Regions from separate parts of the Homo sapiens genome. Here region 2 is linked to region 1. Evidence: fine-mapped expression QTL. A gene starts in region 1. The other region holds a variant in brackets. All regions are shown on one strand. Distances are from middle to middle. Region 1 holds the start of AIFM2 (AIF family member 2). Region 2 overlaps COL13A1 (collagen type XIII alpha 1 chain).

What was found.
Region 2: its variant is fine-mapped to the expression of AIFM2 in macrophages (Nedelec 2016, PIP 0.95).

What each region holds. Positions count from the first base shown.
Region 1 is chr10:70,130,886-70,136,257 of GRCh38, forward strand. AIFM2 (AIF family member 2) reads right to left here and starts at 1,940. Exons shown (of 9, transcript NM_032797.6): 1 at 1,849-1,940. RefSeq lists an enhancer at 1,731-2,231 and silencers at 1,753-1,962, 1,795-2,114.
Region 2 is chr10:69,951,961-69,957,332 of GRCh38, forward strand. COL13A1 (collagen type XIII alpha 1 chain) reads left to right here. Exons shown (of 41, transcript NM_001368882.1): 39 at 922-1,008; 40 at 5,044-5,082. It overlaps LOC107984242 (a long non-coding RNA gene), which reads right to left. Exons shown (of 4, transcript XR_007062181.1): 3 at 4,710-4,895; 4 at 2,935-3,018. Among named protein-coding and RNA genes, the nearest start is that of LINC02636, 55 kb to the right of the region's middle. RefSeq lists a silencer at 4,859-4,928. The variant T/C (reference allele first, on the strand shown) is at 2,208.

The DNA of each region.
Region 1 (5,372 bases):
TCAGTAACTTTACCTTTGCTCCCTGCCACAACACACATACACACAGACACACACACACACAATCTGATTTACACAAAAATTTGCTCAGTCAATCCTGTTTTCTCTGCCAAGAGCATCCACCCTGATCTCAAGGGTATTATTCCACAATAAGCAGCCCATAGGACTACTGAAAAACCAGGAAGTTACATTTATGCCAAAGCTGTTCAGAGGTTGTGCCTCAGAAGACACACAGCAGGAACCGTGTGGGCTCTGATCAAAGCAAGAATGTCATCCCAGAGTTGCTCCAGTATTGCTTCACAAATATTACAAATAAAACACGATGCTTTTTGAGTCGTCATGGCTCACACAAAGGGTAGGTTTCAACATCAGCCTCTGGAGAGCCACATTCCCAGAGTGGCCGTCCCGGATAAGAAGGCCACTACAGCACGACTCACAGCACCATGGAGGTTTCCTCCACCTGCGGGACACAGCAGGATGGAGACGGTTGGGCGGCCTCCCTTCCTGGGACACTCCATGGCCAGCCCCTCAGGGACTACTTGAAGAACAGAACCCCCAAAAGACCAGTTTCTGAAAAGGGACTCAAAGTCTAAGGGAGGCAGCCTCCTTTTATCCCCAGGGGAGGGCAGCTCTGGGGCAGACAGGTTCATCTGGATGTCATATTCACTCCCGCACAGAAAACCTAGGCCAAGCAATTTGTCCATCCTCCTCAGAGCCAGTTTTGTGGTCCCCATGGTCTGCCCACCACCTGTACCTGGACGCTGGCTTCATTTGGCCACCAGACAAAAGTCAGGCTGGCCCTGGAGTCCACCGGCCTGCCCAGCCCATCACTTCTGGGCTAGGTAGTGCTAAGCCTGCCCAGCCCACCCTGGCTGGGGCTCAGTGCCCTCTTCTTGGTGACACACTGTGCTCCTTGGAGAACTCCTCTCTAGGTGCTGGGGTGAGGGCAGGTGTGATCTGAGATCCCGGGGCTCTCTGGCAGGTGCATGCACGCACACTGGAACCTGATACAGGCTTTTGAACACAGGTGCACAGTCCAGAAACCTGCAAGTCCCATCCCAAACTATATCTGACTCTCTGCCCTATGCCTGTCCTCCTACAGGATCATCAGCCCCCAAGAGACCTCACCACTCCCCATCCTCACCTTAAATTCCAGGGTCAAAAAGACTCTCCTTGTAGGGAAAGGTAGGGTGTGTTGATCAGGTGGTGTTGGAAGGAGAGCCCCAATATAGGCCACTAATTCAGTTCCAGGTGGACTGCACGCGTCCCATCAGAGTTAGTTTACTCACCGCTGGTCTTTGTCCCTGCAGCACCCAGGGCTTCGGGAAGGGAGAAGCAGACTTCCTAGTGCTGCACCCCCCAGCTCCCCCGAGCCTATGGGCACTGGGTTGACTCCAGTTTCTTTCCTCTTAGAGACTGAGGTTTCTCCCTTTCCTCTCACACCTGCTTCTGTCCGGACCGGCCGCTTCTACCCAGCGGACCCTCGGACGGTCCTCGCAAGATCCGGGTTACACCCGCCCCGTGTTCCCTCTTCCCCGGTTCGCCCTTCCCGGCCTAAGCCCATCTTCCTTAGGAAAACTTAGCAGGGATTTAGGGGCCAAACCAGGAGGGTGGAGTTTTCTTTGCCCTCGGCCAGGAGCACATCTCCCTGTTGCGTTTTTTGGGGGAGACAGAGAGGGGCGGGCCTGAGTCGAGTATCCCTCTCCTCGCAGCGCCACAACTGCGCGCACCGACCTCCCCACGCCAGACGCGGCGTGAGCCAGGCCTCTAATCCGCTCGCCCCTCTTCCGGGTCCCGGTCCCGCCCGGGGCGCCCGGGGTCTCGAGAGCCCGCCTGGCGGCGCGATCTCACCTGTCGGCCGCGCCCGCGCGCTCTCGCTCCGGCTCCCGCTCCCGCTCCCGCTCCCGCTTGGTCGTCTTCCCGAGTTACTGACCCGAGGCGCTCCCGGGCGGGGCGTGACTCAGCACTCGTGCTGGTCCCCGACCCCGCGGCAACGCCCCGGCCAGGCCCCGGAAACGGTCCTGGCACGCTGGGGCTGGTCTCCGAACGGCCCGCCGGACTAACCTTGACCCTGAGCGAACGGCCTTGAACTTTGAAACAAATGCTCCCATGGCCAGATGTCGCCTCTCCGGCTCCTGCCAGCACCCGCGCCCCAGTCCTGCCGAGCCATTCAGACTTGGTTTAAAGTGTCCTTTCAGCATACTTTAAAGCAAAAAAGAGAGAGAGAGAGAGAGAGAGAGAGAGAGAGAGAGAGAGAGAGAGAGAGAGAGAGAGAAGGAAGGAAGGAAAACAAGCATCCCCCTGTTCCTCTGATTTTCTCGAGGACACCTTTAAAGCCACTGGAACCTTGGAGAGTGGGGTTCCCCTCACACGTTGGGCGCACTGCCAACATCCTTCCTTCAGACATACACATAATAATTCCGCAAACCCTGTTGAGCTCCTACATTTGCCAGGCACTGTGCTAGGCGTTGGAGGGATAACTTGGAGAGAAAACTGACAAGGTTCCTGCTTTCACGGAGGCGACAGTCTGGGAAAAGACAGATATTAAACACACCACCAAAAAATACATGTATAGAGAAAACAAAAACCATGTATCACCAACTGCAGTAAGAAAGATTGGGCATGGCCAGGCACGGTGGCTCATGCCTACAGTCCCAGCACTTAGGGAGGCCAAGGCGGGAGGATCGTTTGAGCCCAGGAGTTGGAGACCAGCCTGGGCAACATAGCGAGACCTACAAAAATTAGCCGGGCTTGTTGGTGCACACCTGTAGTCCCAGCTTCTCGGGAAGCTGAGGTGGGAGGATTGCTTGAGCCCAGGAGTTTGAGGCTACAGTGAACCATGATCATTCCACTGCACTCCAGCCTAGGTGACTGTGAGATTCTGTCTCAAAAAAAAAATAATAATAATAATAATAATAAATGAAATGAAATGAAAAAATAAAAAAGAAAGACTGAGGGCAAAGGAAGGGTGCAAATACTTCTCTCCAAGGATGAGAAAGAGGTAGATTTAGGTAAAGAGGAAGGAAGTGTGGTCTGGATGTGCAAAGACCCACAGGCAGGACAATGACCTGGAAGGCAGTGTATTGCCAGCTCAAATCAGACCAAGCTAACTCAGCGAAAGATAAGCCATCTCCATCTACTTACTGCAAATATTAGCACCTACTTTAAGAGTTGTGGATAAGGGCCAGGCACGGTGGCTCACGTCTGTAATCCGAGCACTTTGGGAGGCCGAGGTGGGTGGATCACCTGAGGTCAGGAGTTCGAGACCAGCCTGGCAAACATGGTAAAACACTGTCTCTACAAAAAATTAGCCTGGCATGGTGGCACATGCCTGTAGTCCCAACTACTCAGGAGGCTGAGGCAGGAGATTCACTTGAACCAGGAAGGCAGAGGTTGCAGTGAGCGGAGGTCATGCCATTGCACTCCAGCCTGGGCAACAAGAGCGAAACTCCATCTCTAAAAAAAGAAAAAAAGAGTTGTGGAAAGGCCTCAATGAGATCATTTTTATAAAGTGTTTTAACATGGTGCCTGGCACACAGTAGCAATGAATACACAGCAGCCATTTATTATAGATATTTTATATTGCAGATTATTTTGCCCAAGGCAACCAGAATGATTTATTTTTGATGAAAAATCCTACTCATCGTCTTAGAAAAACAATAAGCTAATATTTATTGATCACGAACTAAGTGCTTTGAATGACTTCTCAAGTTTTTTTGTTTGTTTTTGTTTTTTTCACAAAGGTCCTGCAAGGTAAGTTTTATTAATCTCCATTTTGCAGATAAGGAAATTTAGGCTCCTAGAGGCTAAAGAATTTAGGCAAGGTCCCTCAGCTAGTAAAGCAAGGGGGTGGGCCTACAATGGAGGTCTGAACCATGACCCCTTTTTGGGGGGTAGGGGGACGAATCTGGCTCTGTCGCTTAGGCTGGAGTGCAGTGGCATGCTCTCGGCTCACTGAAGCCTCCACCTTCCAGGCTCAAGCGATTCTCATGCCTCAGCCTCCCAAGCAGCTGGAATTACAGGCACCTGCCACCACACCCGGCTATAGTAGAAACGGGGTTTCACCATGTTGGCCAGGCTAGTCTCAAACTCCTGGCCTCAAGTGATCTGCCCACCTCGGCCTCCCAAAGTGCTGGGATTACAGGTGTGAGCCACTGAGCCCAGCCTGAACCATGACCTTAAAGCCAGGAAACCCCTCAGCAAGCATCATCCCTAAGGAGCCAGAGGGCACTGCTCAGGCAAAGCAGAATCTCAGTTGTGGGGAATTTACTGGGCATGTACCCAGTAAGATGTGACACAGAGAGGTGAACAGAGAGGCTACAGCCTGCCCACTGCACGGAATCAGCCCTGAGGCTTGGGATGGTCATGGAAGGCTTTGTGTAGAAGGTAGGCGTGCAAGGATGAAGGGGATGCCAGCTGGCAGGATGCAAGGAAAGGACTCCAGAAAGAGCAGGACAAAGATAAAGCTGGAAGAGAGGCGAGAGAGGTGTGAGGTGGCCCAACACTGGGCTCAGGTGTGCCAGGGCTGGTGTGGCCCATCTCTAAGGACCTGTCCCAAACCATGAAAAACTTTTTTTTTTTCCTTAAGACCTGCTACAAAGCAACAAACCATGAAAATCAAGGAATTTTTCTGATTATCACTCAATACTTTCTTGGCAACCAGAAGACACCTCCATCCAGGAGAGGGGACATGGTCTCATGCAACCCCTCCAGGTAGCTCACTGCACACCACTCCTCTGGTCCCACTCAGCAGTGCCCATAGCTTTGGAACTGAAAATCAGGGCTCGCTGCCTAAAAAAGGGGTTTTGTCTCTGAAATTCCAAGTGCCAGAGGTAGCAGGAAAGTGCGGTGGTTAGGATCCTGAAAAAGTGGCAAGTTCATTCCATGGAACTTTGACGGTTAGTGGGGAGAGCAGGCAGATTGTCTAACATGACGGAATCTAAGAGGAGGAAGCGTTGCTGGCTCTCTGCTGTAATGAGCTCAGCCAGGCCTGTGGGTACTTCCTTACAGACAACAGGTGGCTTTTCTGCTGGCTCCCAGGGCTGGAGGAGCTCCAAGGTACTGGGTCATCTCAGGAGCCCAGAGAAACAGAGGCAGTATGCCCACTCGAAGAACAGGCAACTCTTAGATCTGAAGAGCCTGGTAAATGTTCTCCTTTTCCATACGTAGTTCCAACGAAATTTGTAAGCTTCAAAGAAGAGAGGAATATCCTCGTTTCTTCCTCTCTCCCCCAACACATGATTTGGTATAGTGTTCCCAGCTAGGGAGAGGCTATATTAATGAAGGTAAGTTCTGCTGCAATGACCAATAGATTCCAAATGTAATGGCTCAAATACAACAGAAGTGCACTTCTTGCTAGGGCATGAGTTCCAGGC
Region 2 (5,372 bases), 180 kb before region 1:
ATTACAGAAGTGATGCTTCACTTTTAAAAAGAATTCCCCACAGCCCTTCTTTAAATAGACTCTGACACATACAATATAGGATTCAATTTAGAAAAATGATGTTTACTGTAGCTTTTCAGAAACAAATGAATTCCTTAAACCAACATATTCATATACAAATAACGGTCTGACTTCAGACCAGGATGAACCAGAGACACAGATAGAACAGGAGAAGCCAGCTGAGCACAAGGGGCCATCCGTGAGCTCTGGACACACACATACATATGTGCACATGGACACACATGCATAATAAAGGCACACACATGTGTTCACGTGCCCAAGCACATACCCACACACACTCAAACGTGGGCACACACACACATATACACAAGCACATACCTGTATACTCATACATACATATACACACATGTGCACAAGCACATATATGCATACACTCATACATGCTATGTTCACACACATCCCAGGGCTCCAAGCAAAATCACCTTGCCTCCTAATAGAATGTCAAAAGGATAAACATTAATTGGGGAAAAAAAAAGTTTTCACCCCAAAGCCTTTCAAAAACAGACTCAAAGAGAAGGAAGTTGGTCCCTAGCCACTGTGTTCAGCACAGACCCACGCTGGGCTTAGTATTAGCAAAACCGGCCACCAAAATCTTCAGTCTGTGGTTCCCTGCACCTGCAGCTCTGAGCCCTCTGCCTGTCCTCCCCTCCCCCTCCCACCCACCTTAGCCAAATTCTCAGGTTCCTGGGGGGTGGGGAGGAGGTGGGTATTGACTCCAAATCCTACTGGGGAGAATATCCTAATTTAAAGCATCTCTTTTTCCCTTTTTAATTTTATTTTTCTTTTTCTGTCTTCAACCTTAACACATGAATGATCTTAAAGTTTTGATGTTTTTTTCTCGGACTAAACCATTATTTACAGGGGGAGAGGGGGAAGAAAGGCTCTAGAGGGCCTAAAGGGGATAAGGGAGACCAAGGAGCGCCTGGATTAGATGCCCCCTGCCCATTGGTATGTTTTTGTTTATCACTTGCATTGTTCTGGTTTTTGTTCTTGAGGTTTGTAAGTTGGAAACAAAGAAGGCAAATAAACTAAGATGAGAACCAAATGTCTACACGGATGCTACCAAAATCTCTCTGTTCATTTGACTGGTGAAATTCTGCCCGCTGTTGGATTTGCTTTGTAACCACAGCTGCAAGTAATTCTGGCTAAATCCCTTGCCTTTGAATCCTTTTCCTTTGAAGATACAGAGCAATCGATGTGTGGAAGTGAGGAAACCACTAGGAAAGGGATTTTCAGGGAAGGCCTCAGCTCTTAGCTCCAGGATGGCTTTGGAAGCCAGTGTAGCATTTGTGAGCCACGGATTTGCCTTCTTCGTTTCATGGCCACCTCTGTGGGCCAGTAGTTCAAGCTGTCTGAATCCTCACTTGATCAGGATGCAGGACACCAGAGTTAGCGTCTCCTCAGGGCCACTGATGCTCAAAACTGGGCAGAACAAGGCCAGATGAGGGGCTTCTAATGCACAGCCTCCCAACACTCACCAGCCATCCAGCTGAAACCTTTAAAGCTGCAGACCAGAACTGGTAGTCAGACAGACACCCCATGGGAAGCCTTCTCAAAAGAGCCAGCAATTAATGATGAGGCACTTCTGCTGGGTTTCTCAAGTGCCTTTGAATCCATTTGAAGGTTCTAAAAATTATGATGCACTAAAGTTGAAGTTTGTCTGTGTTTACACTAAGTGAGTCTGTAGAGAGAGGAGGATCAACGGAGAGGGGGCAGGTTGTATGTGTGCAAAGCTGAACTCTCCAGAGCACAAAGAGAGCACAAAAGCTGGATTTGGGAGATGGGGGATCACCTGGGATTTAGCCCCTGTTTGTAGATGCCTCAAGGGTCCTGCATCCTGGCCAGGGTAGGACTGGGCCTCTCTATTCCATGGTTGGAGCTGGCCAGCCTTGACCTGAATAATCATCGTGGTTGGTTTTGTGAACAGGGACACCGAGGTTTTAAAGGAGAGAAAGGGGAGCCGGGGTTACCAGGGCTGGACGGACTGGATGCCCCATGCCCATTGGTATGGCATTGCCCTTGCTTGCCTGCATGGCCGATTTGGGCTTCCCCATGTGTGTGATTCATACTGGGTTTCTCCCCAGCCACCCTCCACACTCCTCCTCCATCCCCCCCAGGCTCCACTTCCCACTTCTTCATTCTGTAAA[T/C]GCCAAGGGTCACCCCGCCTAGGCTAGTACTCTGGGGGCTCCCAGTCATGCCACCCTCTTGCATGCAAAGTTTACTGGGATGTTTCCTGGCTTCCTGCTGCAGCTACCTCTAAAGCACAGCCACTTGATGCCAGCCAGCTCTCCCACCCTGAAGTTGGTTTTGGCTGCCTCTGATACTCATCTCCAAGCTGATTCTAGACAAAGCTGCCACCAGATACCAGCTAGGAAAGTGGATTCTCTGGACTGGTTTTCAGAACCATGACTCACTTCTTTTCCTTCAGGCAGTGAAGTTAGTTCAGAATCACTGGCTGAGCACCTAGCGAAACATGTGAATGAGATGCCTGATCAGCCCTGTATCCCCTGCTCCTCCATCACATGATTTGGGGGACAGAAGGGCATGATTACAGAGTAGACTGAGAAGCTCTAGAAGTGAGCTGGAGGAGGGGCCACCTGCCTATTCTTCCAGGTTGGATCGTGGGTCGCTGCCCAGGTGACACCATCAGAACTAGGGGATGGTCCAGGATTAGGTTTTCGGATCCTAAAGGGTTTGTCCTTCTTGCTTAAATCTCCAAAGACATTACCAGACCCTTCCTCGTCCCTTTCTTTCATGATCAGATGGCTTCTTACTGAAGAGTCTGGGAGAGACGGAAAGGTCAAGAATGTAGTTAAGGAGGAGGCAGGGAGACAGCTAAGGACCTCTCTTCCAAGCACGTCCCAGGCGAAGTGGTAGCAGTTTATTCCCGCCTGCCCAGTCCCTCTCTAGGCATGGACAGTCTAGGCCTCCACGCTGATCCTCTTACTGCAAAAGAAGCTGAAGGGAACACTTCACTCCAAGGCTCAAGGGGTTACAGCTCTCCCCAAATTTCCCCAATAGGTTTGGAGTTCAAGAGCTATTTTATCATACCAGTAATAAGAGAATTTGGGGTCTCACATCCCCGCCCTGGGGTCACACAGGAATTCTCTTTGAACAAAAGAGAAAAAGATACAAGAAATTATGCTGTGTGACCCTGAAAGGTGGTCGTAGAGCCCCTTGAAGGGCAGTAGGGACTTTTTAGGAGGAGCATAGGCAACAAAAGGAGAGTGCAGAGCAAGCAGGCGGGTAGCATGCTTCCTGTCCCTGCTGGTCCTGCCAAACCCTGCGCTTGCAGACTGCACAGCCACCTTTCTCAACCAGGACTTCCACCATCCACGCACCAATGGGAATGCCGCTCTGGCCCGCAGGGGCTCCCTTGAGCACTGGCCAGGTCTTCCCTCAGCCACAATCCCCTCCCACAATCTGGGCACCTTTAGTTCTGCCAGCAGCTGCCTTGGCCTCTCTGTTCCTCACCATACATTACTTTTCATTCTCTGCCTGCCCTGCCCTCCATATCCCCCTGCCACCATCCACACACCAATGGGAATGCCGCTCTGGCCCACAGAGGCTCCTCTCCCTCCCGGCATCCATGTGACGTGTGTCATACCGCACCGTGGCAGGCTGGGGAAGGGGCACAGGGTCACCCTGAAACTGTGGAATGCACCTCCTCCCCCTGCAATCCCCTCCCCAACCCAGAGGGGAAAATGAAGGTCACCCTGATTTGACTCTCCATGTAAAATGGCATTTTCTTCCATAACATCCCATATCAATGTGTCAATTTTCTATTAATTTTACTGGGGAAGTGTCTTCCCCTTGTTTCTCACTCTGCCTCCTCCTCTGTGTTATTATGGGCTTGAGGGGCAGGGGTAGCTATTGCTCATGACTTTTACTACAAGATAACCAGACTTCCTAAGCCCTCCATATTGGGACCAATTTCTGCTGAATGCCAGGTGATGAGAGGTTTCAGCCCCTGGCGTGGGTGGATGACGTCAGACCAGGGCAGCAGAGGACTCTCATTCCACAAGCTCCCTCAGGACTGAGCACTTGCTCCGGGTCTCCTGAAGCCCCATGTCCATCTCCTTGTCTGCCCTGCCAGTCTAGCAGACTTGGGCTGAGAACCAGACCTTTGCCCTTGGCCCAGCCTCGCCTTCCCCACTGGGTCTCTAGATTTCTAGATTCCCCATAGGGTATGCCAGCAAGGAGAGGATATGAGGGCCCAAGAAAACTCAGGAAAGTTTCTATCACCAAGGGCAGAACACGAACATCTTGAGGCTAAAGGAGCTGCATGGTTGCTACCAACAAAGGAGACCGACGGTGTGCAGTTGATTCCCATGTTTTTACTGCACTTCACCCCCAAATTCCCAGCAAGGTCTAAGGCTTCGCCAGGAACCCTTGTCTTCTTGCCAAAGGCATGTCAGGGCCATCCTGCAATACTCATGAGGTTGCCTGTCCCTTCATGCCCCTCACCCCACCCCAGGATTAATCATCAAAGAAGGACTGTCTACATGTCCTCCTCCCTGTGCTTAGGAAGAGAGACAAATAAGAGAATGAGAAGGCTGGGAAGGCCCTTAGCGGTCACATCAAGCAACTGTCCTTGCCAAGGTTTTATGGAGGAGGAAACTGAGGCCGCCTTGTGCTGAGTGGCTTACCCGTGAGCAGCCGGCACTCCATAGGGCCACAGCAGAGACTGTTTCTTCGTGGCACGGAAGGACATCTCTGCTTGCTGGTCCCACGGGCTAGGACAGCCCCTATTGACGTTGCACTATAGCTGCATGTGACCTTTAACCAATGGTAAAATAGCCGGATTTGTTTCCACCTCCTTCTGAGGTTCTGACCTGTAGTAGAGAAAAGAAATAGACAAGCGTGGGTGGGCCACATCCTGATCAGCTGCCAAAATGCGTGTGGCCCTTGTTACCCCTGTCCTGCCCACTTGGTGGACCATTGCAGGAAGTCTGAGCCCTCTGCCTTCCTTTCTCCTTGCAGGGCGAAGATGGCTTACCAGTCCAAGGCTGCTGGAACAAGGTAAGGCTTCCCATTGGTGTGCACTGGGGCTCCGTTCTCAGCAGTGCCATAAAGCTTCCACAATTTCCATTCTGCCTTGCTACAGATGAGGCAGCAAGACATAGGTCAAATAGTCACTGTCTCAAAGGCAGGGTGCCCATTAAACATCCCATACACTGCATGCTGTTAACAAACATTTTAAAATGCTTCTTAGAACATCAGTAAACCCTAGGCGGAATGTCCATGCAGCCACACAGGTGACATCTTTATGCTTTGTGTGTTCAATGTACATAGTGTCTTTCCCCCAAGGA